Linked DNA regions of Homo sapiens. The protein of the gene in region 4 interacts with the protein of the main gene of each other region in a biochemical or structural test. Each region holds a gene or a part of one and is shown on either strand. Other genes may lie near its edges.

Evidence for each region.
Region 1: the proteins of VCAN (region 4) and FBLN2 form a complex in vitro, tested with the Homo sapiens proteins (one study listed by BioGRID).
Region 2: the proteins of VCAN (region 4) and SELP form a complex in vitro, tested with the Homo sapiens proteins (one study listed by BioGRID).
Region 3: the proteins of VCAN (region 4) and SELL form a complex in vitro, tested with the Homo sapiens proteins (one study listed by BioGRID).

What each region holds. Positions count from the first base shown.
Region 1 is NC_000003.12:13,615,104-13,622,138, reverse strand, and holds part of FBLN2 (fibulin-2 isoform a precursor), read right to left. Parts: intron 4,064-7,035; coding exon 3,854-4,063; intron 3,759-3,853; exon of another isoform or gene 3,591-3,758; intron 3,236-3,590; coding exon 3,122-3,235; intron 2,410-3,121; coding exon 2,308-2,409; intron 365-2,307; coding exon 224-364; intron 1-223. UniProt on the Homo sapiens protein: Its binding to fibronectin and some other ligands is calcium dependent. May act as an adapter that mediates the interaction between FBN1 and ELN.
Region 2 is NC_000001.11:169,606,106-169,613,140, forward strand, and holds part of SELP (P-selectin precursor), read right to left. Parts: intron 7,010-7,035; coding exon 6,824-7,009; intron 6,298-6,823; coding exon 6,112-6,297; intron 5,573-6,111; coding exon 5,387-5,572; intron 3,585-5,386; coding exon 3,399-3,584; intron 1,030-3,398; coding exon 844-1,029; intron 1-843. UniProt on the Homo sapiens protein: Ca(2+)-dependent receptor for myeloid cells that binds to carbohydrates on neutrophils and monocytes. Mediates the interaction of activated endothelial cells or platelets with leukocytes. The ligand recognized is sialyl-Lewis X.
Region 3 is NC_000001.11:169,690,134-169,694,622, forward strand, and holds the end of SELL (L-selectin precursor), read right to left. Parts: intron 1,670-4,489; coding exon 1,651-1,669; 3' UTR 534-1,650; downstream 1-533. UniProt on the Homo sapiens protein: Calcium-dependent lectin that mediates cell adhesion by binding to glycoproteins on neighboring cells. Mediates the adherence of lymphocytes to endothelial cells of high endothelial venules in peripheral lymph nodes.
Region 4 is NC_000005.10:83,474,744-83,481,778, forward strand, and holds part of VCAN (versican core protein isoform 1 precursor), read left to right. Parts: intron 1-7,035. UniProt on the Homo sapiens protein: May play a role in intercellular signaling and in connecting cells with the extracellular matrix. May take part in the regulation of cell motility, growth and differentiation. Binds hyaluronic acid.

The DNA.
Region 1 (7,035 bases), on a different chromosome or scaffold from region 4:
ATAGACACGTCCCTGGGGAAAGCAGCCTCCGGGTGGAGCTGGCAGCCAAGCGGGACAAGACGCCAGGACACAAGGGCACGACATAGAGCACGGAGATGCCGGCTGTGCTGAGAGCTCACATGCAAAGGGCAGGCCCTTTGGCATGTGGCCACAGTGTGGTGGGCTTGGCGTGGAGCAGAGCGGAGAGCTGTGACGGCGGGCGGCAGGCGGGGCCCTGGCTTACCCACGCACTTCCTGTGCGCATTGAGGATATAGCCATCGGCACAGAGCACTGTGTGGTTGACACAGTAGAAGGATCCCAGGGTGTTCACACAGAACTGTCGCCGGCTACAATCGTGAGCACCCATCAGGCACTCGTCTTGGTCTAGTGGCAGCCGCAGGAGGAAAAACAGAAGGACTGTTAGAGGGACATGGGCTGCCACGGAGCATCCAGTGACAGGAGAATGAGACCCAGCAAGGGGCAGGGGCCTGTCTGGGGCCTCCCCGCCTGACTGTGTGTAGCTGGGCCTTGGGCCCAAGTGTGAGTGTGCAGAGCTGGTCCCCACTGCCCCAGTAAGGACGGTGGTGAGGTGAGACTCAGAGAGGGTGGGTGGCTGCCCACGGTCACAGTGGGGACAGGACCAGAGGCTGCCTCCCGTACGCACTCGATACTTCCCACATCCACGGGCGCCAAGAGAACCATGCCCCCGAGAGCTTGCAAAGTCCAGTACTTAGGGGACCAGGCCAGCCACATAAACCAGGGAAGGGCCCACAGGGGCTCCAGGACACTGAGTGTCTGTGCTCCATCCAAAAGGGGACAGGGGTGTGGGCCCCTTGTATGCAGATTTCACACCAAGAGAAACCTAAAATCTGGAAGTGTTTTAATCATTCTTGTGCTCAACACGTTTGGAACTCACTTGATTATTTCCAATGCAGCAGAGTTGAGCAGCGCTCCTCCGCAGAGCAGGTGCCTCTCTGAATGCCCATTGCAACCTGGACCCCAGCTTTCACTGCCAGGGCTTCCAGAGGAGGGAGGGGGTCCTGGGGATGCGCAGACATGGGCTAGGCTGCATGAGCAGCACAGGCAGAGGGGCCTCACAGGGCTGGGCCCAAAGGAGGCCTGCCCCAGAAAAGATGCAGCTCTTACATCTTCAGGGCCCTGGGAGATGGGGGGCGGGGCCCAGAGAACCCAGCACCACCTGGACCTGAGAGCTGCCCCCAGCATCGGAGAGGAAGGCCTGCCGGTCACTGCCACGTCATGTACCCTGGGCAAGTCTACTGTCCTCTCTGGGCTCGTAGGACGGTGTTTGTCCACATCAGAACAGTCTCGGCTGGGGATGGACACGGGCTTTCAGCTTCTGGGAGGGATGTGGGTATTCACCCAGGCAGACTTGACTCTGTTCTCCCCCAGACACCCACCAGGGTCTCATCTCTGAGCCAGAACTGCCATACTTCCTAGACTCTGCATACTCCATTTCTGTCCTGCCCCCAGGCAGGAGGTAGAGTCTTGAGACCTCTCAGCTTGGTTCTTCAGAAGCCATTCACTGTGGGAACCAACCCAGCAGGTGCTGGATCCAATGGCCTCATTTTACAGTGGGGGGTCCTGGCCCACAGAGGCCCCACAAAGACAAGACCCAGACCTAGGCGGGGCCACGGGGGTGGAAGGTATGTGATCCTTGGACAGCTAATCATCACCAGTGTCCTTCATTTGGGAACAGATTCAGCCAGGCATTCCTGCTGTCCAGCCTCCCTCCCACTCCCCATCGGGGACACTTCTGGCTGCCCTTAAAACAACCGGCATTGCTTCCCCTTCCCCCTCTCCACCCAGGCCTGGACATGGCTGCACAGACCAGGGCAACCCTCAAGGGCAAGGTGAGTGGAGGTGGTGTCCGCGGACCAGCAGCATCCGTATCACCTTGTTAGAAGCACAAATTCTCAGGCCCACCCACCCAGACCTATTGACTCGATCTTTGGGGATTCGGCAGAATCTCAGGACTGCCTGTTTGACCCAGGCCTCCAGGGACTCAGGTGCACACTCGGCAGGAGAAGCACTGCTCCGGGAAATGCGGAGCGACACCATGTGAGGAGCCCGGGCCCCATTCCTATGCAGCCACACTGCAGGCCCACCCTGGAGTGCATGTATACACCGCACGTACGGTGAGAGGGAGTGACTGTTTAACCTGCTCCACTAGGGGTGCTCATCATAGCAGCCAAGACTCTTCCTGCACAAACTCAGCAAGTTTTAAGTCTCAGCCACCCCCACCTGGAGGCCCCCATCACAGGCCAACTCAGGTTTGCACAGGTAGGAGGGCACCCCAAGGCACTCACCTTCACAGGACACGCCATCCGCCATGATGGCATAGCCGGGAAAACAGGAGCATATGGCTGAGCCCCCAACAGTGCTGCACACCTGCTTGCAGGGTCCATTGTCTGGAGGAAACCACACAGAAATCAGAGACCACCAGGCCCTGGCCTTGGTCCACACTGGCTCATTCCCCATCCCTGGCTCTAACCTACTAGTGAGACACAGAAACAAGGCCCCTAGAAGGCAGGGATGCTGGGAGACAAGGAACGCCACTCCTGGTCCTTTTCACAGGTTCATCCATTAAGTCTGCTCCAACACCGTCTGGCGTCGGGGACGACGTTCTGGGTCTACCTCCCCCACCACTCGGATCCCAGCCCATGCCTTGCGTGACAGCAAGAACAATGGGGAGATGGAGGAGAAGAGAGAAGGAAGAAGAGAAAGGGAAGGGGGCAGGGAAAAAAGCAGGGGAAGGGAATGAGGAGAAGAACAACAAAGAAGAGGACTTTCTACACAGCGCTGAACACAGCCTCCACAACAGGTCGGCAAACCAGGATTTGACTACCTCAACGTTACAAGAATGGAGACAAAAAGCAGCTAACTGGCTGGTTTGGGGTCACACACCAGGCCCTAGGCTGTCCCCACACCACATCTCCCCAGTGACTTCCTCAGCTCCTCACTCAGCCCAGGGTAAGCCCATCATCCCCAAAACAGAAGCACACCCTTTGGAGGGGCCATCTTGCACATACCCAGCACCAGACAGCTCACCACCTGCAAGCAGCCCAGACCCACCCCCTGGACCCTGGGCCCTGTCCTGGAGACACCACCCACACTGCTTACCTTTGCAGGTATTGGGCTGCGGCAGTGGCAGCGGGATGGTGTTAGAGGCCACCTGGGAAAATTCTGACTTCAGTGCAGGCTCCTGTGGGGCTTCCGGCTGTGGAGGGTGACCCTCTGTCATGGGTAGAGCAGAGTGGGGGTTGCAGGGAGGTCTCAGGTCTTCAGCCAGGCCTCAGGCACTTCCAGGCACCTGCCCTTCTCACACAGGGCACTGACATTTAATCCCCCACCCCATTTCACAGGAGAGGAAAATGAGGTTTGGAGTGTGCATATACCTTGGGAAAGATCAATCTCAGCTACTGGGGGCAGAGGGGGTAGAAGGAAAGGAGGCAAGGAAGAAGAGAGGGGGGAAAGGAAAAAGAGTGTCTGGATTAAAAACCAATCAATTCTGGGACCAGTGACTGGGAGGAAATCCCTCAGGATCACCATGGGCCCAGCACTGGGGAGATAGCTGGGTTTTGGTGAGAGCCTCTGTGGCCTGAGCCTGTCCCTGCGCTCGAATATGGGACAAGGTGCTGGGGCCAGGTCCCTGCAGATGGAGCCCCAGGAAGAAAGCTTCTATTTTTCCTGCCTCACAAATCCCCCATCACTGGAAGCTTCAGGCTTCTGTGGGTTCCAACTTGTGGGGTAACAGGAAGTGAAGGACCCCACAGTGTGCACCCCAGGAATGCCACACCCCCTGGCAAGATCAGCCCTTCCCATAGCCCCTGCCCTGGCCATCAGGGCCCTTACCTGGGCGGCAAGTGCGGCCATCGTCCTGCAGTGAGAAGCCAGGAAAGCAGGCACAGTGGTAAGAACCCACAGTATTGATGCAAAGGTGCTGGCACAGCTCTCCCGGGAGGAGAAGGCACTCATCCTGGTCATCGCCCGGCAGGCTGTTCGGCAGCTCGGCCTCTGTGCCCAGTGACAGGGCCTCTCGGCCCGCCATCTCTGCCTCTGAAACTAGGACAGGGGTTAGAGCTCAAGACAGAGCCAGCTTGGTCAGAGTAGGTGGCTGAGACAACCAGCTTTGGGAAACTAGTGCAGGTCCTCATCAAGACCTCTGTGTGCCCAGCAGACAGCAAGGATGGATGAAGCAGGATGGATGGATGGGTGGGTGGGTGGATGGGTGGATAGATGGATGGATAGATGGGTGGGTGGGCAGGTAAATAGATAGACGGATGGGTATAGATGGATGGGTAGATGGATGGGTGGATGGATGGGTGAGTGAGTGGATGGGTGGGTGGATGGGTAGATGGATGGGTGGGTGGATGGGTAGGTGAATGAATGGGTGGGGGGGTGGGGGGGGTGGATGAATGGATGGATGGATGGATGGATGGATGGATGGATGGTTAGATGGATGGGTGGGTGGATGGGTGGGTAGATGGGTGGGTGAATGAATGGGTGGGTGGATGGGTGGATGGATGGATGGATGGATGGATGGATGGATGGATGGATGGGTGGATGGGTTGTAACTGGATGGGTGGATGAATGAAGGAGGATGGATGGGTAGATGGAAGGATGGGTGGATAGATGGATACATGGGTAGACGGATGAATGAGTATTTGGCTGAATGGATGGATGGGTGGGTGGATGGATAGATGGATGGGTAGATGAATGGATGAGTAGATGGATAGATGGATGGGTGAGTGGGTGGATGGGTGGATGAGTGAATGGAAGGATGGGTAGGTGGATGGATACGTGAATGGATGGATGAATGGGTGTGGGGCTGAATGGATGGATGAATGGGTAGATGAAAGAGTGGATGAGTGGATGGGTAGATGGATGGGTGGACAGACAGATGAACAGACGGATGGATGGACTGGTAGGTAGGTAGATGGATGGATGGATGGATGGATAGATGGATGGATGGATGGATGGATGGATGGATGGATTGATGAATGGATGGGCAAATGAATGAACAGACCTCAAGCAGTAAGAATGAACCCATCAGAGCCAGGTCCAAGTCTTCATCACTGAGTCCTCTACAATAGGACAGGGTCAGATCCACAAAGAAGCTCTCACTAAAGTGTTACAATGGATTCAGACCCCTGACCTCAGTGACATCAAGGAGGATCATCCTTAGCAGCAGAAAGGGCTCCAAATCTGGGCTCTATTGGATCAGATGTGACCACTGACCTGGGCCTTCCCTAGCTGGGTCAACTTGGGCAGCACTAGGCCTCTCTGTGCCTCCAGATTCTGGAATAAACCCATCTCCCAGGGTTGTGCTGGGGAGCAGGTGAGAGTGGAAAAGAAGGCTCCTGAGGCTGAGCTGCCTTGGGAAGCTCTTTGTATGACAACTGTGGGGAAAGCATGCAGCCAGGACTTCAGGGGGAGGCCTACAGCCCCTCTAAGCTCTGTGCCAGCCCAGGGCCTCCTTCCCACCCCACCCAGGCAGCAGAGCCCACAGAGAGAGTAGCTGCATGAAGTCACGTATGAGGAACGTGTTTCATATGGAGGGTGTTTACATTAAGCTGCAGCCCAATCAGTCCCAGCCGGTGCCTCCAGGCAGGGCCATGATGGCTGGCGGTCTGGTCCCGCAGAGACTCAGCACTGCAGGCAGGCGGCGGACAGACCTGGACCCAGGGCTCCTCCTAGCACACCACAGGCTAGACAGTACCTCCAGGATTCAGGCTCAGCTCACCCTCACCAGCATCTTCCTCACAGGAGGAAGCATGGATCTCTGGCCAGGATCGTGCCTGGCTCTGTTGCCCACCTACTCCCTTCCACCCACCTGCCTTTGACTTTTGAAGCCGGACTTCCTCCCAAACTCTACCTTCAGCCAGACTCTTCTGGGTACTAACCTGGCCTTCACACCAGTACTCAACCATTCCCCTTAGAGCCAATCTCAGCAAGTAGCACTTCCTTGGACTGGACTTACTCTCTGTACCCACATTGGATTGGCAAGGGTGGTTGGTACATCTGTTCTGGTTGATCTGCCCAGGTCTGGCCTGGTCCAACCCCCACACACTCACCCCTGCCTCTGCCTCACCCTGATGGGAGATCCAGGTATCTGTTCTCCCACCTGTACCACACAGGATATGAGCTCTTCCTGTAGGATCTCCTGAGCCCTGGCACCTGTGGACAGCAGGCATCTTAACCCCTATGCACAGACTTCTGCCATCTTGCATTATAGTGACAGAGATCTGGGTCAATCGGAACCAAGGCTGACTGGGTCTAGATAAAACTCAGGGCATCAGGAAGGCTGGGGCAGAAGTGGGAGTCATTAGAGCCAAGGTGTCCAGTCCTGGCTGTGCCAAAGACCCGGCATGTGCCTGGGGCAAGATCCTGCCCTTCTCTGGGCCTCATCTTCCCCCTCTGAGCTGCTGAAGCACGGCAACGGTAACAGCAACAGTGGTGGCAATGCTGAATGCATCACTAGGCACTGCCAAAAGCCCTTGACAGGCATCCTATCATTCATCCTTGCACTGAACAAGGTAAAGAATACAAGACCATTTGACAGATGCCACAGTGAAGGCTCTGAGAAGGAGCCTTCCTTCTGTGTGACCTGCCCCAGGTAAGCAAAGGAACTAGGATTCCAACCAAGTCTGCCTGACTCCAGAGGCCAAGAGTTTAATCTTGATACCAGGACCTCATCTGTGGCTTTAATTCCCACTCCATGAAGTGCCCAGGACAAATCCACAGGGGCCCCAGATGACGGTCCATAGGAACAGCGAAAAAACTGGGCTGGTGGTTCTGGAACCTACCTGGACATCTGGTCCCCAACCAGTTGAGGCTGAACATGTGGACACCAACAAAGCAGGCCTGCCAGGACTCTCACGGCACCAGCCCCAGGGCCACCAAGGCCCATGTACAAAAAGGACATCTGCTGACTCACTGGGGCACCCTCATCAGGCTCCTGCAGACCCACCAGGCACAGAGGAGGCTAATGGTCATGGGTCCAGGAGACAGCCCTGGCTAGGGGACAGGGACTG
Region 2 (7,035 bases), on a different chromosome or scaffold from region 4:
CAGGAGTTTGAGACCAGCCTAGCTAAGATGGTGAAACCTCATCTCTACCAAAAATACAAAAATTAGCTGGGTGCAGTGGTGGGCACCTGTAGTCCCAGCTACTCGGGAAGCTGAGACAGGAGAATTGCTTGAACCCGGGAGGCGGAGGTTGCAGTGGGCCGAGATTGTGCCATTACACTCCAGCCTGGGCGACAGAGTGAGACTCCGTCTCAAAAAATGTATGTATATCAAGTACAATGCAGATAGAATGTTTATACTGAATCCACACATTTCTTTCTTCTGAGAATCCCGTAACCTCCAGTATACAGATTAGTTTTTCTCTTTTTTCTATCACTCTTCACCTTATTCTAAGTCTATTTCTCCAATTTTATACAGATCTTGGAGTGTTTGCAACTGGGTACTTGTAAATTCTGCCCCTCCCATTTTACCATTATACCCTGTGGTTCCTAGAAGTGCCAGACCAGCCTTGGGACAACCACTCTGAAGCAATTTTTTTCCCACCTGGTCTTCTTTCCAGATGCCATGTTTGGCCAGGTGAGAAGAGTTTACCTGGTTTGTGGCAGGAGCCTTCAGGTCTGGGTAAAGACCCTGATAAGGAGTTAGCAAGGGCCATGCCCTACTGTCTATGGCCAGACATCCTGACACTTGTGTAATCTGCCTATCCCCCGGAGGCATTTGCATTTGGGATCCTTGGGTTATAGGACAAGAGGATGAGTGAGAGTATTTATGAATTTTCCAGTCCATTTCAAGGTGGATCTTACATAGTTGTCACCTCTAAAATCCAGCCTTTAAAAATACTGCCTACAATTTATTTCCATGATGTTAGAAAGAATACACTCTTACCTTGGCATTCTGGAGGAACAGAATTCCAGTTTCCAGTAGCCAAGCACTGTAGCACACTTGCTCCCACCAGGAGCAAGCCTTCATTGCAGGTGAAGCTGCAGACTGACTGGTACCTAAAGGCACCGAAGGGGTGGGAGCAGTTCACCCGGGCCTCATTTGGAACTGGGAGATCCTGGCACTGCAAAGCTAAGGGATGAGGAAGTAAGGAATAAAGAAACAGTAATACACATGTACTCATTGATTTTTGACCATTAACTCTTTCTAGTGTCAAGAACAGGGATTCCTGAATTGGGCTTGTTTAACATAGAAGATAAGAAAAAGTGTCATTTAATTATAACGGCACATGAAGGATTTTATTAGGAAATGCTAAACCTTTGTTGAGCATCTTGGCAACATGTGTCAATAATTTTTAAGTTATCATGCTTTTGGACCCAAGAATTTATGCTAAGTATGTAATCAAGATGCATACCAAAAAATCTATTTAGAGATTTTTGTGAAGACATTATTTGTAAGAGCGGAATATTGAAAACAAACACAAATGCCATTAATTGAGGGTGGAAATTAATGATGGTGGATCCATGAAAAGAATGTTAAAGGTCACTAAAAATAATATATTTTAACTTGTAAAGATAGGAGAGAGGTCTCAATGTATGATGTTAAATAAAAAATCAGAGTAAAAATTATAATATACACCATGATCTCAAAGATGTAAAATAAATAACCATATACGAAGAGAGCACACATATTCCATGTGTTGTCTCTTCTCATCTTTAAAATGGTAGTAATAATTGTAACTACCTCATAGAGTTAGACTGAGATCATAGAAAGTGCTCAATGAACATTAGCTGCTATATTAGTAGCAGTGGTAGTAATAGATAGTAATAATATCATTAAGGCTTTGCGTCACATGCAGACACTGAGTTCAGGAGTGGGAAACATTCAGAAGGCCTATGAAGGGGGTTAGTGAGACCACATCTCTGGATACTTAAGAGAATATCCAACTATCTTTTCTTGATTAGACATTTACCTTCCTGGAGACAACAATGGCTTGAATAATCCCTTATGATCCGTTTTAAGTGTGTCAAAGAGCTCATTGTGTCTTTTTCTCCCAGATAACATATACAATACATTCCATAACTCAGACTAAGTGTCAGCATCATGGTGTATAGCCATCTATTCTATTGCCTTCTTGTTTTTTCTTTTTTTTTTTTTTTGCTGTTCAATTTTTTATTATAGTGAGATATACGTAGCATGAAATTTAATTTACCATTTACCATGTCACCAATATCAAGTGTACAGTTCAGTGGTATTAAGCACATTCATATTATTGTGCCACCATCACCATTATTCATCTCCAAAACTCTTTTCATCATCTCAAACTGAAACTCCGTATCCATTAAACCATAACTCCCTATTTCCCTCTTCCGCCGAGCCCTTGGCAACCTCCGTTCTACTTTCTGTCTCTATGACTTTGACTACTCTAAGTTCCTCATATGAGTGGAATCATACAGTATTTGTCCTTTCATAGTGGCTTATTTCACTTAGCATAATGTCTTCAAGGTTCATTCATGTTTGTAGCAGAGGTCAGAATTTACTTCCTCTTTAAGGTTGAATAATATTCCACTGTAAGTATGTGGAATACTTTTTACTTATCCTTTCATCCATTGATGGGTGTTTGGGTTGCTTCCACATTTTAACTGTTGTGATTAATAGTGCTATGAACATGGGTGCACAAATATCTCTTCAAGACCTGCTTTCAAACCACTGCCTCATTTTAAAATCAAGGTATACTTAGGAACCCAGAGGAGTCACATAGATTGCTCAGAGGTCTCCGTAAATGAAAACACAAAATGTCAATATTACACTTCTGGAACATGACTTTAGTGTGAGGTACTCCTCGTAAAAAAAATAATAATCCTTGTGAACCACCACACCCGCCCCCCATGAGTGCCTTAGTATAAGAGCAAAAGATTAGAAACCTAACATATTGAAAGAGGATCATTTTGTCAAATCAGACCACAGACATGTGATTTATAAGGTAACATGTCATCATCATCATTTTCCCTATAAATCCTATAAGAGTTTTAAAGTTGCGTTTACACACATTAATTCACAACTACTAGTGAGGCAGGTAGGTAAGGCTGATAATAGTAGCCCCATTTTACAGAAGATACTGAGCCTCAGAGAGTCTAAACCACTAGCTTAAGGACAGGAAGTGACAGGACTGAGCTAAACACCTTGTCCATTACCCTTCCCCATCCCATGCTATTCCTCATGCATGATTTATTCCCCCAAGCCCCATCTTCTTCATTCCAATGCACCCTATATGTGTCAATCAGTGCAAACCTCACCTTGACTATACTATAGTGGACATGTGCCTAAGACTGGCTTCACGCACCGTTTCATCTCATCCCTGGTCCCAAGCACAAAGGACATGGCCCATAGTAGGTTCTCAGTGAATATCTGATAAAGAAAGGCATGCCAATGCTCAGTGCAGATGCTGATGCCTCTAACGAGCTGAGACACACAGAAAAACATTACCACTGTTACAGTACCTTGACAGACTGGGGCTGGTGCTGTCCACTGTCCCAAGTTATCACACCGAACTATATCGGCTCCTCTCAGCATGAAACCTTCAGCACAGCGGAAGCTACAGTTGGTGTCATACTGAAACGCTCTCAAGGATGGAGAGCAATCCATGCTTCCGTGGACAGGACTCTCCAGCGGCTCACACGAAATAGCTAAGTGGAAAAGGTATCTTCTAAAGCCAGGTAATGGAAGGGCCGGGTTCTTCCTCAGAAAAAATTCCTAGATGCTATATCTTTCCTGTCCACATTTTCAGTGTGTTCAGAACCCTAAAACCTCCATTTTCCAAAAGAGAGACTGCCTGGAACACCTTCCCATGCCCCTCTTGGCCTGACTCACTCTCACCTGCCCTTCAGGTCTCAGCTTAGACTTCCCTTTCCTTAGGAAGCCCTCCCTTCCCACCTTAACTAAGGGTAGAAGCCCCTGCAATGTGCTCCCACAGCCTCTGTTCTTGCGCTGTTCATACATGATTGTCATTCTTCCCCATTATACCGTGGTCTCCTCGAAGTTGGGCTCAGTCATTCATAGTTTTATTCTGGAGCTGAGCAGAGTGTTTTGTACATTGAAAGTGCTCATTAAATATTGACATTATCTGTGAAATTGAACCTGAAAAGAGTATATACAGGAAAATGCTGGACTTATAGGGAAAAAAAAAAAAGCTGGACTAGCATAGCTTATTGTTGACACTGTTACCTAGTCCTGTAAAATGATCCTGACCGGGCTTTGTCTCTAGAACACAGGATGTCATCCTAATCAGACTTCAGTTGCCAAGTGAGTGCAGCCAAAGTGAATTCCTGAGCACAATTAAGCCCTGAGTGACCTCAGTTCTGATAAAGATTGGTTTCCTCATGCTCTTCCTTGATAAAGCATTTCATTTCCAGGCTATTTCTGAAACTTTTCAAAGTGTAAAGACTACCTCTTTGCTCTGGGCTTTGACCTCTGGTTTTTACAGACTCAGAGCATTTAAGAACCAAAAATCCGGCTGAGCACAATGGCTCACACCTATAATCCCAGCACTTTGAGAGGCTGATGTGAGTGAATCACTTGAGGTCGGGAGTTTGAGACCAGCCTGGCCAAAGTGGTGAAACCCTAGTCTCTATTAAAAATACAAAAAGTTGCCTGTAATCCTAGCTATTCGGGAGGCTGAGGCAGGAGAATCGTTTGAACCTGGGAGGCAGAGGTTGCAGTGAGCTGAGATCGTGCCACTGCACTTCAGCCTGGGCGACAGAGTGAGACTCTGTCTCAAAACAAACAAACAAACAAACAAACAAACAAACAAACAAAAACACCAAAATCCTCTAGTGTTTCTCTCTTCTCTCTTATGTTTTAGGCAAGAAAAGTGAGGTTCAGAAGTGTTAAGTGACTTCTCTAAAGTCTCATAGCTAGATAGTAGCAGGGTTGGGCTTGTCATCCAGGTCTGGGAATTCACTAATCTATCGTAAATTTCCTATTCTCCCATTACCACTGTCCGCCTTATAAACTGAGGGTGTGAGGCAATTGCAGAGAATTCATTTTGGCGGAATTATGTAATTGCCTGGGATTGCATCACACACTTTTTCGATGCAGTGTTCCTTCCTTTGCTTCTTTGTCAAAGGCTACCCTCAAAGACTACATGGTGAACCACTCTCTTTAGCCACCTTAGCCGCTGCTCCCAACTCCCTCTCAAGTATAGGACATGGTCCTATACCTCGGATATGTCAGTAGAGCAGAAGCTCTATGCTAGGTACTTTATACATGCTATTTAATTGTATACTTTTTATGTACTTAATCCTCACAAGCACCTTGCAATTCTTAGCTCCATTTCACAGATGAGAAAACCATGGTTCCTGGAGGTTGAAGAGCTTGCTCTAGTGCAAGAACTTAGAAGAGATCACCCCGACACTGAGAGCCCTTGGCCTCTCTACCATGCCATGATTCCTTCTTGGACAGAATGGAGGTTGCTAATGAAAAATCCTACCCTCACAGGTTGGCAAGGGTGCAGACCAGTGTCCAGAGTCAATGCAGCGGAGCATGTCCAAGCCCCTCACTCTGTAGCCGGGCTGGCACTCAAATTTACAGCTGGAGCCATAGGCAAAAGCAGTGAGCGGATGAACACAGTCCATGGTTCCTTCACTGGGGGCTTCCAGGTGCTGACACTGCACAGCTGGAGAGAATAACCAAGGATAAAGAGAAAGATACTGAGAAAGGAGAAAAGCCACACAGAGAGCAATGGTGGAACCACCTCTGAAATGCAGGTGGAGCTAGCAAGATGTAAAGGTCAAGAGACCCTAATGATGTTTGTCCAGACTTGGATTACCAGTTCCCAGGGTGATCTGAGTCTGTTAAAAACAAAGATTCCTCCAAGCTGTATTCTTAATGTCCTCTATTCCCTATACTTCTATAAACCTGTCTCAGTAGGTCTTCTAGTGTCCACTTATAGATGTAGAGGCCACCCTTTCTAATCTTATGGGGAAATTATGAATGAGGCCATTCTGAAACTGCCTGCATTTGTGTTTGGGGAAAGAAAGGAATTTTTTTCCTTTCTCATCTCAGATGAACCCAATCTAGCTGAATGGCAGGTAGGAAGAGAATTAAATTTTGGCAATTCAGGCCAGCTTCTCCATAAGCTGGTCAATTTCATCTATGCACTAAGTAAGGACTGGGTGCAATGGACATTATACATCCCAACTACCTGAAACTCACCTTTACACACTGGGGCTGGGGCTGTCCATACCCCCGAGGCTGTGCATTGCACCACTTCCGGTCCAACTAATGCAAATCCCTCTTCACAACTGAAGCTGCAGCTAGACTGATGCTGGAATGCTTTTGCAGAATGAAGGCAGGTCATGTTTCCTCGTTCAGGAATCTTCAGGGGTGGGCACTGGGCAGCTAAAACCAACCACAGAATAATAGTGTGAGTCCTTGGACAAATTTTGTCCATCACCTTGGAAGCCTTCAAATTCTGCAGCAGTCACACCTTCCCAAAGTGGCAGGCAGGTTGATGCACTAGAATGGTTAAATGGTGTTTTCAATAGCTGCTTGGAAAGATCAAACACCCTTGTTTTTCATGTAGAGAAGTTAGGTAAAATTATCAAATTAATAATTCTTAACCCCTAAGTCCTCATCATTGTACTCTGTTTACTTTACAATTAACAAAGGGAAAGAGGGGTCCCTTTGTAATGTTTTTGCCTGCGAATCAACAATTAAACTGACTAAGTCACTCTACCCATAAAAAAATACCATGAAAATTGAAATTAATGTTACTCTGGTTGACAGTTAACAGTGATAACCAGAGTTTTCCATCTAACCTAGATGGTCATTATTTCTCACATTTTTTAATGGAGAAAGCTCATTGTGTCCTCTTCTCCCCCAAAATTCTATGTCAGTGAGGATGAAAAGAATAAGGTCTACATACCTAAACACTGTGGAGGCTTATTTGTCCAGATTCCAGAAGCCAAGCATTCCAGCTTGCTGGGCCCATTTACTTGGTACCCGTCAGTGCAGTGGAAGCTGCACTGCGAGTTAAAAGAGAAGTTTCCCAGAGGGTGGCTGCAGTTCATGAGCACGTGTTGAGGGAGCTCAAGTTCTCCACACTCTCTCACTGCAGGAGACAAAATAGTGATTTTT
Region 3 (4,489 bases), on a different chromosome or scaffold from region 4:
GTGTCTGTGCACGTGTGCACTGTACACCTCCAGGGGATGTACCCTAAACCACATGAATGTGATTTGCACATCCAAGATTTACAGTGTACTATAGGGAGAATCTTTTGCAACAGCTTTTGCTATAATACAGAATCTGAGATGTCTTTGAGAAAGAAAAGTGTAATCATTACCAAAAAATTATTCTCATAATGTGTGCAAATTTGTATGAAATCTATATTGGCCATGGGACAAGGAGGTATTTCCAGCTAGCTTCTGAAAGGGCTCTATTCTCTCATAAGAATTCAGCTGTTGACATTAGGTGATATCTGCCCAGGTCATCAGATGCCATAGAGAAAGAGGGTTTGCTGAAACTTATATCAGCAGTGCACTGTATGCTCTTTCTGATTTATTTGAACATTCATTTATTGAGTGTCAAGTAATGCACTAGATACTCCAGGGATCTGACACAAACTCTGCCCTGAAGGAGCATGTAATCTCACTGGGGAGAAAACAAAACATATGATAATTTCAAAATAACAAACTAGGCAAACTAGTTAACACTTAAAAAGCAGGCTTTATTCAAATGCAAAATTGCATGTTACAGGGTAACCTTTCAGTAAGAAGCCAGGAAGAGGAGCTCATCATGGGTTGGATTAGTAAAGGACTAGTTATAAAAGAAGTGGTGGGGTTGAGGGAGGCCTGAGATGAAATTTAAAGAATATGTAGAATCTAGGTAAGTGGATAAAAGGTCTGGGGGCAGGGGAAAGGAGAGCATTTCATTGTGAATCAAGGAATTTCTCCACCTGTTTTAACTCTTCCATATGACATCAAAGAGATGTCACTTGCAGCTAGCATTTCAGTGATGTTTTCTTACTAATAATATCGTGATAAAAGAAACATTGACTATAAGAAATAGGAATGGGTCTCATAAAAGGAAACAGCAAAACCCCCAAACTAAAAAACAGCGCAGGCTATTTCTCTCTTCTCTCCTTTTGCTTGGCACTCATGAGATGCTAGGTGTGGAAGTCAGCCAACTGAAAAAGAGAGGTGGCTGAAGAAGGTGGGGAGGCTGAAGCCAGTTAAATAGGATGGTCCAATTCACAGACGGCGAGGCTACAGTGCAAATAGGACTCTTTCAACTTGAGCAGGACCCCATTACTTCACTGGAGTTAGAAAGAAAGGAGAGCGTAGACTTTTTGAACTTTCTATAAGAGTGTACCTCCACAGTATACAGAAGACGACGTGAAATTTGATCTGCAAGAAAACTGAGTCCATATTCACATATGTATCAAATTTGCACTTCATTTAGAAGTGTCTGTCATCAAGTACAGCACTGAATTGAAACTGAAAACAAGAGTCAAGAAAGAGCAAAGTCAGCCATCTTTATATTCCACATGAATCCTTTCCCTTTATGGTCTTATTTGTTTCTCCTCAGAAAAGACAAAAAGCTGAGCTGTATAAACACCTGTGGGCTGGGGGTTGAGGGATAAATGAGGGGCGAAATGGAAGCTGAAGGAACTGTTGGTCAGGTAGAAATCTTCCCAGATGCACTGAAGGAAACACACTTCATGTTTGACGTAGGAGGTGCCACCACACAAAACGTTTCATGGAAGGATTTAAAGGATCTCATGATTTTTAGTATTCCAAGAATTTTCTTTCACCAAGGGCGATTTAATATGGGTCATTCATACTGAAAGAAAAACAAAAGATAATAAGAGTTTAAAAATTGCAAAACTTGGAGTGTTAGTAGTAAAGGTAAATATTCATTAGAGATGAGAAGAGGAGCAAGGAAATGCTTTCAGCTGGAAATCTCAGACAAGAGGCCAGGCTTTAGGAACCTCTGAAGATGAACAAATGTAAGCAAACCCTAGTAGCAGCACTTCTCAGATTTTCATGTGCTTACCACTCAGAGATGGTGTTAAAATGCAGACTCTGATTCAGTAGGTCTGAGTGGAGCCTGAGATTCTGCACCCCTAACAAGCTCTTTAGTGATGCTTATGCCACTGGCGCACAGACCCCACTTGGAGAAATTTTTGTGGTGCATACGGTCTTTGTCTCCAGATCTAATGAGTCTGAAGGACAGTGTAGATTGATTTTTTAAATTTATGTTTATTTTAATTTAATTTAATTTAATTTATTTATTTATTTATTTTTGAGATGGAGTCTCACTCTGTTGCCCAGTCCGGAGTGCAGTGGCACGGAGGCAGCTCATGCAACCACGGCCTCCTGGGTTCAAGCGATTCTTCCGCCTCAACTTCCTGAGTAGCTGGGAATACAGGCACGTGCCAGCACACCCAGCTAATTTTTGTATTTTTAGTAGAGATGGGGTTTCACCACATTGGCCAAGCTAATCTCAAACTCCTGACCTCATGATCCACCTGCCACGGCCTCCGAAAGTGCTGGGATTACAGGCGTGAGCCACCGAGCCCAGCTGTAGATTGATTTTGAGCAGTGGAAAGTCAAGGAATTAGAAGGCATGCTTAAATGGAAAGTGAAATTGGAGAAAATTTAAACTCATGAAATAGTGGTGGTTATAAACTCGTGATAAATTATATCCTGGGATATAATTTAATGAGATGGTAACACATTTAGTTTAAAGAAATAAGTGACACTTTTTTTGTGTGACACAACTGTCTTATTCTTGGAAAGGACAAGGAGAGAATGAAATATGGTATGTCTTCACAGCACCTTTCAAAGGGAGAACCAGATTCTGAGGAGCTGGTCTCATGATGAACTGTCAGGGTAAACCACAGTTCAGCAGCTGCAAATGTGCTTGCCAAAATAGAGACAAAAAAATGTTTCTGAAAACAAAATTTCACATATGCCCTCCTCTGAGGTTGGCATCATATCTTCCTGTGTATCTTGGGTGTAGCTTCTATCCTGCCAGAATTTAGACAGTAGAAACCAAATGAGGTGATAAACAGAGTCATTTTGCAGAAGAGTCAAAATAACCCAGCAAGAAATGAAACCACAAATGCCCAAGGAGTCATTCATTCACCATTCAAAAGCTAATAGAAATGAACACAAACTACTATGAAAATTCACCCAAGAACTTAAAAAAAAAAAAAAAGGCTCATGGTGTTTAGTGTGATAGTATTCATTTTACCTTTGACTTGTTCTAAAAACACACCATACTTCTACCCCACCCTTCCTCAGTGCCGTCACACAATGGTTTCAGTGTGAAAAAAAAAACCACGTTACTGGAAAAGGAGGGTGCCTGGGACTTGCCACTCTAAGCTGGTAGTCAAGGGTCTTGAGTTCTAAAAGCATACGCGTTAAGAGCATGATTCCTGGATCCAAATGAGTATGGATCTCAGCATTGCCATTTATTGTGACCTCAGGCTATTTTATTTCTCTGTGCCTGTTTCTTTATCAGTAATGAAGATGTTCATAGACCCTTCTCCCACAGACTTAAAGGCATATTTCATGATTTAAGACATGTAAACCATTCATAACAGTATACAACATGGAATTAATATTTGATAAAGGTTTATGATTATTGTAACTAACTCTGTCACTTGCTCAAGGCCTATAGAAAACTTACTTAATTAGTTCAACTACAAAAAGAGTTTGAATGTGATATCCACCAAGATCATATTCAGACCTAGAATTCTGTGATTCTTATGAATTAATACAGCCTTGGTCAATAAATGAGAGCTGGGCAAATAATTCTTCTTTGCTAGGCCTTTCTAGACCATCTGGTGAAGCATTCAAGACTTATGTTATTGGGGCCAGCCTTCCTTTCCAACTTCAACTCCACAACTCCTCAATAAGCCATGGGCTCAAGAAAGTTCTGCTCAGTGGCCCCTGAAAAATGCTTTCATAGTCTCACTACCATACCACTGCTTACACAATTTCCTTCCTACAGACTGCCTTCCTTTCCTGCTTTTCTCCATATACCTAAATCCTATCTATTCTTCATAAGCAACCTTCTTTATAACATTTTCTATAACCACCAAGCCAAATGACCTTTTCCTTCTTAAATATAGCACCCATTGGCCATTACCATGCTCTGCCTTGTATTTTTCTGATTTTTTTCTTTCTATATTCCTGTCTTAACTCCCCAGCTAGGTAATAATTTTCCTGAAATCAGGGACCAGGCTGACTCCTCTTGCTGTCTCAAGAAAGCTTAGCAGTTTCCAACACAAAAATGTTCAATAAACAACTATTAATTGACTGATTATAAAAAATCAGTGAACCATTAAACTTAATATAGCAATTTGCTTAGCATGGTAATTAGCTTTTTGCTAATATTCTTCCAGCCAGTCTCTCCTCCTGTGCCTCAAGGACATCTTAAAAAAAAAAAATCTAGTTGATCTGCTTCCATCTAGTGGCAATTAAAACAGGTGGTTCCGGTAGCCAGAAAACAGCTCTGGGTAGATTGTGCCAGAAAATACTTTCACTCAGTAGGTGCGAGTTTGAAAGAAATCTTCACATCTGTGGGTTTCCTGCCACAGACATAGGGAGACCAGCCCAGAGAAAGAAGCCTTTCCTCACTAGACTCCATTTG
Region 4 (7,035 bases):
GAGAGCCGAGTGGCCTCGCCCCCAGGATTCGGGGCCGGCTGCTTCTGGAGCTGACCCGAGTTCCATCCAGACAGCGCTGAACACTCTTATTAAAAGGCTATTTAAGTTTTATTTTATTTTATTTTATTTTTGCTTGCTTCTTGGGAGTGGTAGGAGGGGCATCGTGCTTTTGTTTTGAGGCAGGGGAGAGGTTAAAATTTACTCCAAGCAAACTTTTTGTCAGAAAAATGAGACTTTATACCGTATTCCATTTGTTGACTTTTTAAATACATTCAGGTCACTCTAAAGCCCATTCTTAGTCAATTAACAGATTAATTTCGTTCCAGACTGTCATAAAGAGTTCGCCTGGAATGGCAAATACTGCCATTCGACAAGACTAATAGAATTTCATGGGGGCAAACATGGAAGGGCTGCGAGTGTAACTGAGGTTCCTGTGCCTCAATGAGGAACCTTAGCGGGGACCTGGCGGGGACTGGAAGCTCAGCACCTATTTAGGGAGTGACTGAGCTGGAAACCTGGAGAAGCTTGGTGCAGACGAGACGGTGCTTCTTAGAGCTGCATTTTAAGTCCTCCCATTTTGCTGCATATTGGAAGAACTGGATTTTAAAGATCTTTTCCATCACCTCAGATTCTGTAGCTAACAGCCACGTCTTTTTCTTTTTGTCTGCTGAAAGCTGTGACCTAATTGTTTTAAGCACTTCTTGACAATTTCGCCAAACCCATCCTGAAAATATTCACATAAAGTCCTAAAATAGGATGTTGTGAGTGTAATATAAAAATAGGAAGGTACCAATGGAAGCAACAATTAGTGTTCTGAGATAGAAGCGGTTCCCAGTTTGTAACTTGGAAATGTTAAGAGCAGTACATCAGGGAGAAGGTCTCCAAGAGTCTGACTTCTTGTTCTGAGCTCTGAGTAAAGAAAGAAATATGTTAGAATTGTATTGTCTGCCCGCAGTAATATTGTAAAGGGTTCCAATGGATTCCAATGTGATTGAGCAATTACTTCCTCCAGCACCAAGTCCACAGTCCTTAATCTTCTTGTGAGAAGATTAGGTAGGAAGCGGGATGAGATTCAAGACAATCATTTAGGATTTATGTCAGAATTCAAAGTTTTGATTCTTTTGGTAGATAAAAACAGAGTTGGTTTTAAATTGTATTTCCTGCTTTCAAAAAAACGAGGTTTGAAAGGAATCCCCCTAGATTTACATAGGTTTACAGATGTAAGTTTCTTCTTTTTCCCTGTGTTTGCAAACTGGAGGGAGATGCCTTTGATATTCCAGAATACCTGTATCTATACACTTGTAAATTCTGCTAGGAAAGGACCTAAACAGCTAAACCAAAGGTGACCATGATTAATGTTAAAGATACTACCCATTGTTCTCTCTTTTGTTGTATTATTAGGCTTAAATACTTTGGAGTTAATGATTGGTCACTTAATTGAGTAACAGAGCCTTTGAGAGCGCAAAGATCAACTAACTCTGTCTCCCAAAGTCTGGCAACTAAGCCCTCCTTTCCTGGTGAGATTTAAACATTTTTGTTGACGTCATTCATGGACAAACATCGGTAAACACTGTATTTAAAATGGGATATTGCCCTGTGATGGAGCAGAACTTCTCAAGACACATGGTTCTTTTGAAAGAAAGAATTAATGACTGTAGTAAGGTATTTTTTCACCACCCACGTAGAGAAACCAGTTAGGACTGACAAACACTCATTGTTGGGAGTTACTTGCTCTGGTCTGAGAAAATATGCTGATTGTTACATAGGTCTGTATTTTACCAGAAAACACAAAGCATGTACTCTCCCTGATTTGGAATCAGAAAAGGGGGATTAGATATGGATGTCTTGGCCAAGCTCCATTTCAATTAGTGAATTTTTGCCAGTTTCCTCTTGTAGCCTAGACTTGGTAAATTACATATATATAAAGTCTGTGTGTGTGTGGGGGGTGCGTGTGTGTGTGTATGTATACAGGGTTTTTAAACACTGCTAAGTTCTTACCATTGAATGTGTTAGAGGTGGTTGTATTTCAGAGGTCAGTACAGAGAATCTTTGTTTAATGTGTCAGTTCTGTTTCCTGAAACACACCTCTGGGTAGATTTACCAACTATAAAAGGATACAAATGTATATACTTTCCACATCTGTATACATCCTACCTCATTCTTCTAAGGATTTTAAGAGGTGTTTATGTCTATAAAATGAGATTACATATTTTACAATAAACATATTTGATAAATTATAATCTTTTTATTATTAAATTATTGATTTGATATTACTTGAGGTATAGTGGAATGAGCACTAGACTTGGAATCAGAAAGTTTGAGTTGGACTCACTAGCTGAGAAAACCAAGCAAAGATATTACTTTTGGACCTTTAGTGTCATAATCTATTAAATGAATATGCAGTTATAAAGATCAAAAGAGTAAGTACTTTGAAAAACTATACAAAAAAGGGATGATAATATATTATGTCTTGGGATTCATATTGATCTAATTCTATAATTTTAATAATAACTGCATTACCCAAGCCATGTAGTTTCTACTGAATCTATAAAATAAATCAGAGAGGGGCATATTGTTTTAAAAATTGTTTAGTTTCATTAATCAGAAGACAGGTTACAGAAATTGACTCCAATGAAGTTGGACATTCAGTGGAAAGGAAGAATTATTCAATAAATGGTTTCAGGACAATTGATGGGTCCATGCAAAATAAGAATCAGTCTCTACCTGATTTCTCATCCTAAAAGAAATATAAGATGAATCAAATATGAAATGTAGGGAATAACTTTTTACAAAATGATAAAAGAAAATCATGGGATTAAAAAAAATAAGTTAGGAATAGAGAAACCTGTTCTAAGCAAAACATAAAACCCAGTGCCATTCTAGGAAATACTGATAGGTCTGACTAAGTAAAAATTACACAAAAGCAAATAATATATTTGGAAAACATCTACGACATTTGAGAGACAAAAAGCTAATAACTCTTGATATTCCATGGACTTTTATGAATAACTTTGAAAAGTCCACATCTATCAAAATATGAGCAAAAATTATGTACAGGTAGTGGCAGAAAGAGACATAGAGTTTTAAAATTATAGAAAAAATCGCTCAGCCTCATCTGTAATTAAATAAATAGTAATTAAAACACCAATGATATGCTACACCATTTTTTCACCAATCAGAGGAGTAACAAAAAAAAATAATTTTTTTCTTTTTTTTTTTTTTTGAGATGGAGTCTGTTACTCAGGTTGGAGTGCAGTGGCACGATCTCAGCTCACTGCAACCTCCGCCTTCCAGGTTCAAGCAATTCTCCTGTGTCAGCCTCCCTAGTAGCTGGGATTATGGGCACCCACCACCATGCTTGGCTAATTTTCGTGTTTTTAGTAGAGTGGGGTTTCACCATGTTGGCCATGGCAGTTGATCTTGAACTCCTGACCTCAAGTGATTCACCCACCTCAGCCTCCCAAAGTGCTGGGATTACAGGCATGAGCCACTGTGCCTGGCAAAAATAAAATTAAAAAGTTTGATGCAAGTTTGTGTTGGCCAGGTTGTGGAGAAACTGGGTCTCTCATATACTGTTGTATGAAAGTAAATAGGTTCCTCTACTTCAAAAAATAATTTGGCAATCACTTTTTTTTGATTCTTTATCAAAAGTTTTTAAAAGATGTATATACTCTTTGATTCAGCAATTCCACTTCTCGACATTATTATATGGATGGATATTGGTACCAATATCACCCAAGACAAATGGACAAGGATGTTCTTTGCAGCATTGCTTCTAAGAGCAAATATCTGGAAACAGTGTAAAGGCTCATCATAGGGAACCATTTAAATAAAAGTTGCTGTATCCACCTAATGGAAAACTATGCAGCTGTCAAAAATAACATGGAAAAATTGTATTTGCTGATTTGGAACATTCTCCAAAATATATTGTATTCTAAGTGAAAAAATTGATAGATAAAACTGAGTATATATTATACATCTAATTATGTAAAATGGGTGTATATTCATTCTTTTAACAAATATTTACTGAGTGTTCTAGGCATTGTGGATACAGGAGTGAACAAAACATCAAAGACTGCTCTGTTGGAACTTTTACTATGGTAGGTAGAGAAAGGCAATTCCCAATCACATATGCAAAATGGTGATATGTGCTAGGATGAAAATAGAGCATGGGAAAGGGAATAGAGTACAGTATGTCTTAGGTAGAGTAATGAGAAAGGAGTTCACCAGGCAGAGAACAGAGGAGTGCTAAGGGGCGACAATGTGAAAAAGCTTAGCCAAGTCCAGGTTCAGGAATTCACATGATGCTATTACTTGTATGAAGTAAATTCATGAAATTTCACACCTAAATCACGTGATTTCTCTCTGCTGTACAATGATTCTTTCTGTGAGAAAGAACCAGTGAGCAATATGATATGTGATGCTCATTACATCCACTTTGTAGCTGAAGTATCCTAGAAAGTTGGTTGTCTAGGGTACCTAATTAGCAGAATGGTGGACAAAACCACCGTGTCTCTGTCCTTAAGTCACCCCTTGTCAGCTGAGCTTCCCCAAAATCAAGGGAGAATACTAAATATCTATTTAATAGAATCTTGGCTTTCTCTCGGAGGCTGCCCATCCCTGGTGTGTCCCTTATCCTCCCTGCAGACATTTCTCATGGATAGGAGTTCCATTGACCTTGTCTTTTATGTCTCCCAGGCAATTAAACAGTCTCAGTACCCTGTACCTGGATTGTTCAATGACTTTCTTCCCTTCTCATTGACTTCACTGGAGTAGAAGGCTAAATATAGGCATTCACTCTCATATCTCTCAGGTCTTTCCATGCAGACAGAGTTGTTATCACTAGTAGACGGTGCTTATAAGAGAGACATGGAAAAGTGGAAGAATGGAAATAGGGATTTGGAGTGGTGCTAAAAACAAAGAAAGAGGCTTCTGAAAGCTTTCCATTTAATATGATCAAACATAGAAGACAAAAGATGTAACTTAATGACCAAGGATAGGGACATAGCCTTGAGAAAATTACAGAAGTGGAATGAACGTCTTGGACTCCAAAGAAGAGGGAATGGAAATGTAGTTCTGAGGCAGCTAAAGTCAATAAAGCCCTCTGATATATTTACTGTAGAAATAAATGATCATCTTTTAATTCAAGGTTTGCAAACTTAGGTGACTACAGGGGCGAGGCATGGAGTGGAAATGGGTAAGAGACTAAGTGGGGGCAGTAATGGCCTTGAGCACACAGACTTAAGGGGAGAGACTGCTGCTTGGTTAATGCTCATGATCAGCCAGCTGAAATATAGACTTAGTGTTGCTAGACCTTCTGATTTTTTGAAAGAAGTTAGAGATCTTATATTTAGTGTAAACAGTCTAATTTTTAAATTGAGTAACTTATTCAAACATATTTATGCAACTTATTCAAATGTATTTAGAGCATGTCTGATCTCCTCCTTGTATTCTTACCTAGTCTTAGGGGTAATCTTAAGGAAAGTGATGCGTATACTTGTTGTACCTATGTAGATGGAGGACCATTCTCCTCTCCCCAACAAAAGACACTTTTATAAGGATTGAGTGTGGCACAAAGAGTTCGATTTTTAGTATTTAAATTGAGTAGGAAACTCAAATACAGAAGATCCTTTCCTGGGTCACACCTTTGGTTTTTTTAAATGAGATTTGACTCTCTAGATATTGACAAACATCATATTATTGGGTCATGGTAAATCTTCAAGTGGACTGATTCAAAAGTGTTCAAAAGTATTTCAGGTGTTAAGGAATTGTTGGCACGGAGTTTCAAAGGTGTTTCTGCATAAGAAATAGAGGCGTTGATCATGTATTTGATCTACAAACATTCCTCAAGGATATACCCTGAACCTGGCAATGAAGAAATATTGTGGGAATTATTAAGTTGAATAAAGTACTAGCTCTGCCTTCCAGAAGCCTACTGTTCTACAGAGGAGATTAGACATGTTTACAGATAATTTGAAGTACATAGCAATAAATTATAGGATGATTTATTCCAAGCATAAAGTGTATATTGCTACTATAGTGGTAACCTAGGTTATAATTTTCAAATGTAAGAGCCCCAAATACTATTCTTTTTACTCTTAGTGATATGAAACTATGTTAGAACATCTGCAGAAAGTCTGAATTAGTAATTTTAATAATAAATATTGAGTACTGATATATTGTATATCACTGAGATTTATTTTATATACATTATTTTATCAATTCCTATGATCACTTCGGTAAGTACTAATTTTCACAACTAAGTAGTGACAGAAAATGAGGTTTAGAGAGATATAGTATTTTACCCAAAGTCACAGAATATAAGTAGAGAATGCAGAACTTGCATTCTGGGCTATTTGACAGTGGAGCCCAGACTTTTAAAATTAGGCTTATAAAGATTTCCTGGAAAAAAAGAAAAATAAAAAATAGAGAACAAATTTTCCTGAAGAAAAGTAGGAAATTATTATTTATAAGTATAATTAAAGAGAGATCTTTAATTTCTTTTTTTTTTTTTTTTTTGAGACGGAGTCTCGCTCTGTCGCCCAGGCGCAATCTCAGCTCACTGCAACCTCCACCTCCCGGGTTCATGCCATAAAGAAAGGTTTCTTATTTGGATTCAGCTAATACTCATGGAATGCATTTTCTTTAACACCTTTTTATCATAAAATACAATCTTTTACTTTGGCTGTGCAATTGATACCTTTATTTTTCCTTAAAATATTGTAATAGCATAGATATATGGTATATACTTCCTGCTTGCTGTGCTGTCTTATAAGAAATCCAGAAACATAGAAACATTATGGCATTTCCCAGTTAGTGTTTAACAAAGTCTATTAGCAGATCCTAGTGATTATAGGATAAATAACAAACTTAATTATCAGGGTTAATTTAGGATTATCAACCATATGTTTTTCATTGTGAATTATCAGTTGGTCTATAGATGGAAAATATAAGATGTATAATGTATTAGCTTAAAAAATGCTCTTCAGAGAGTGTCTAGAATTATAGAATTTAAAAATTTTGTTTTGAAAAGGT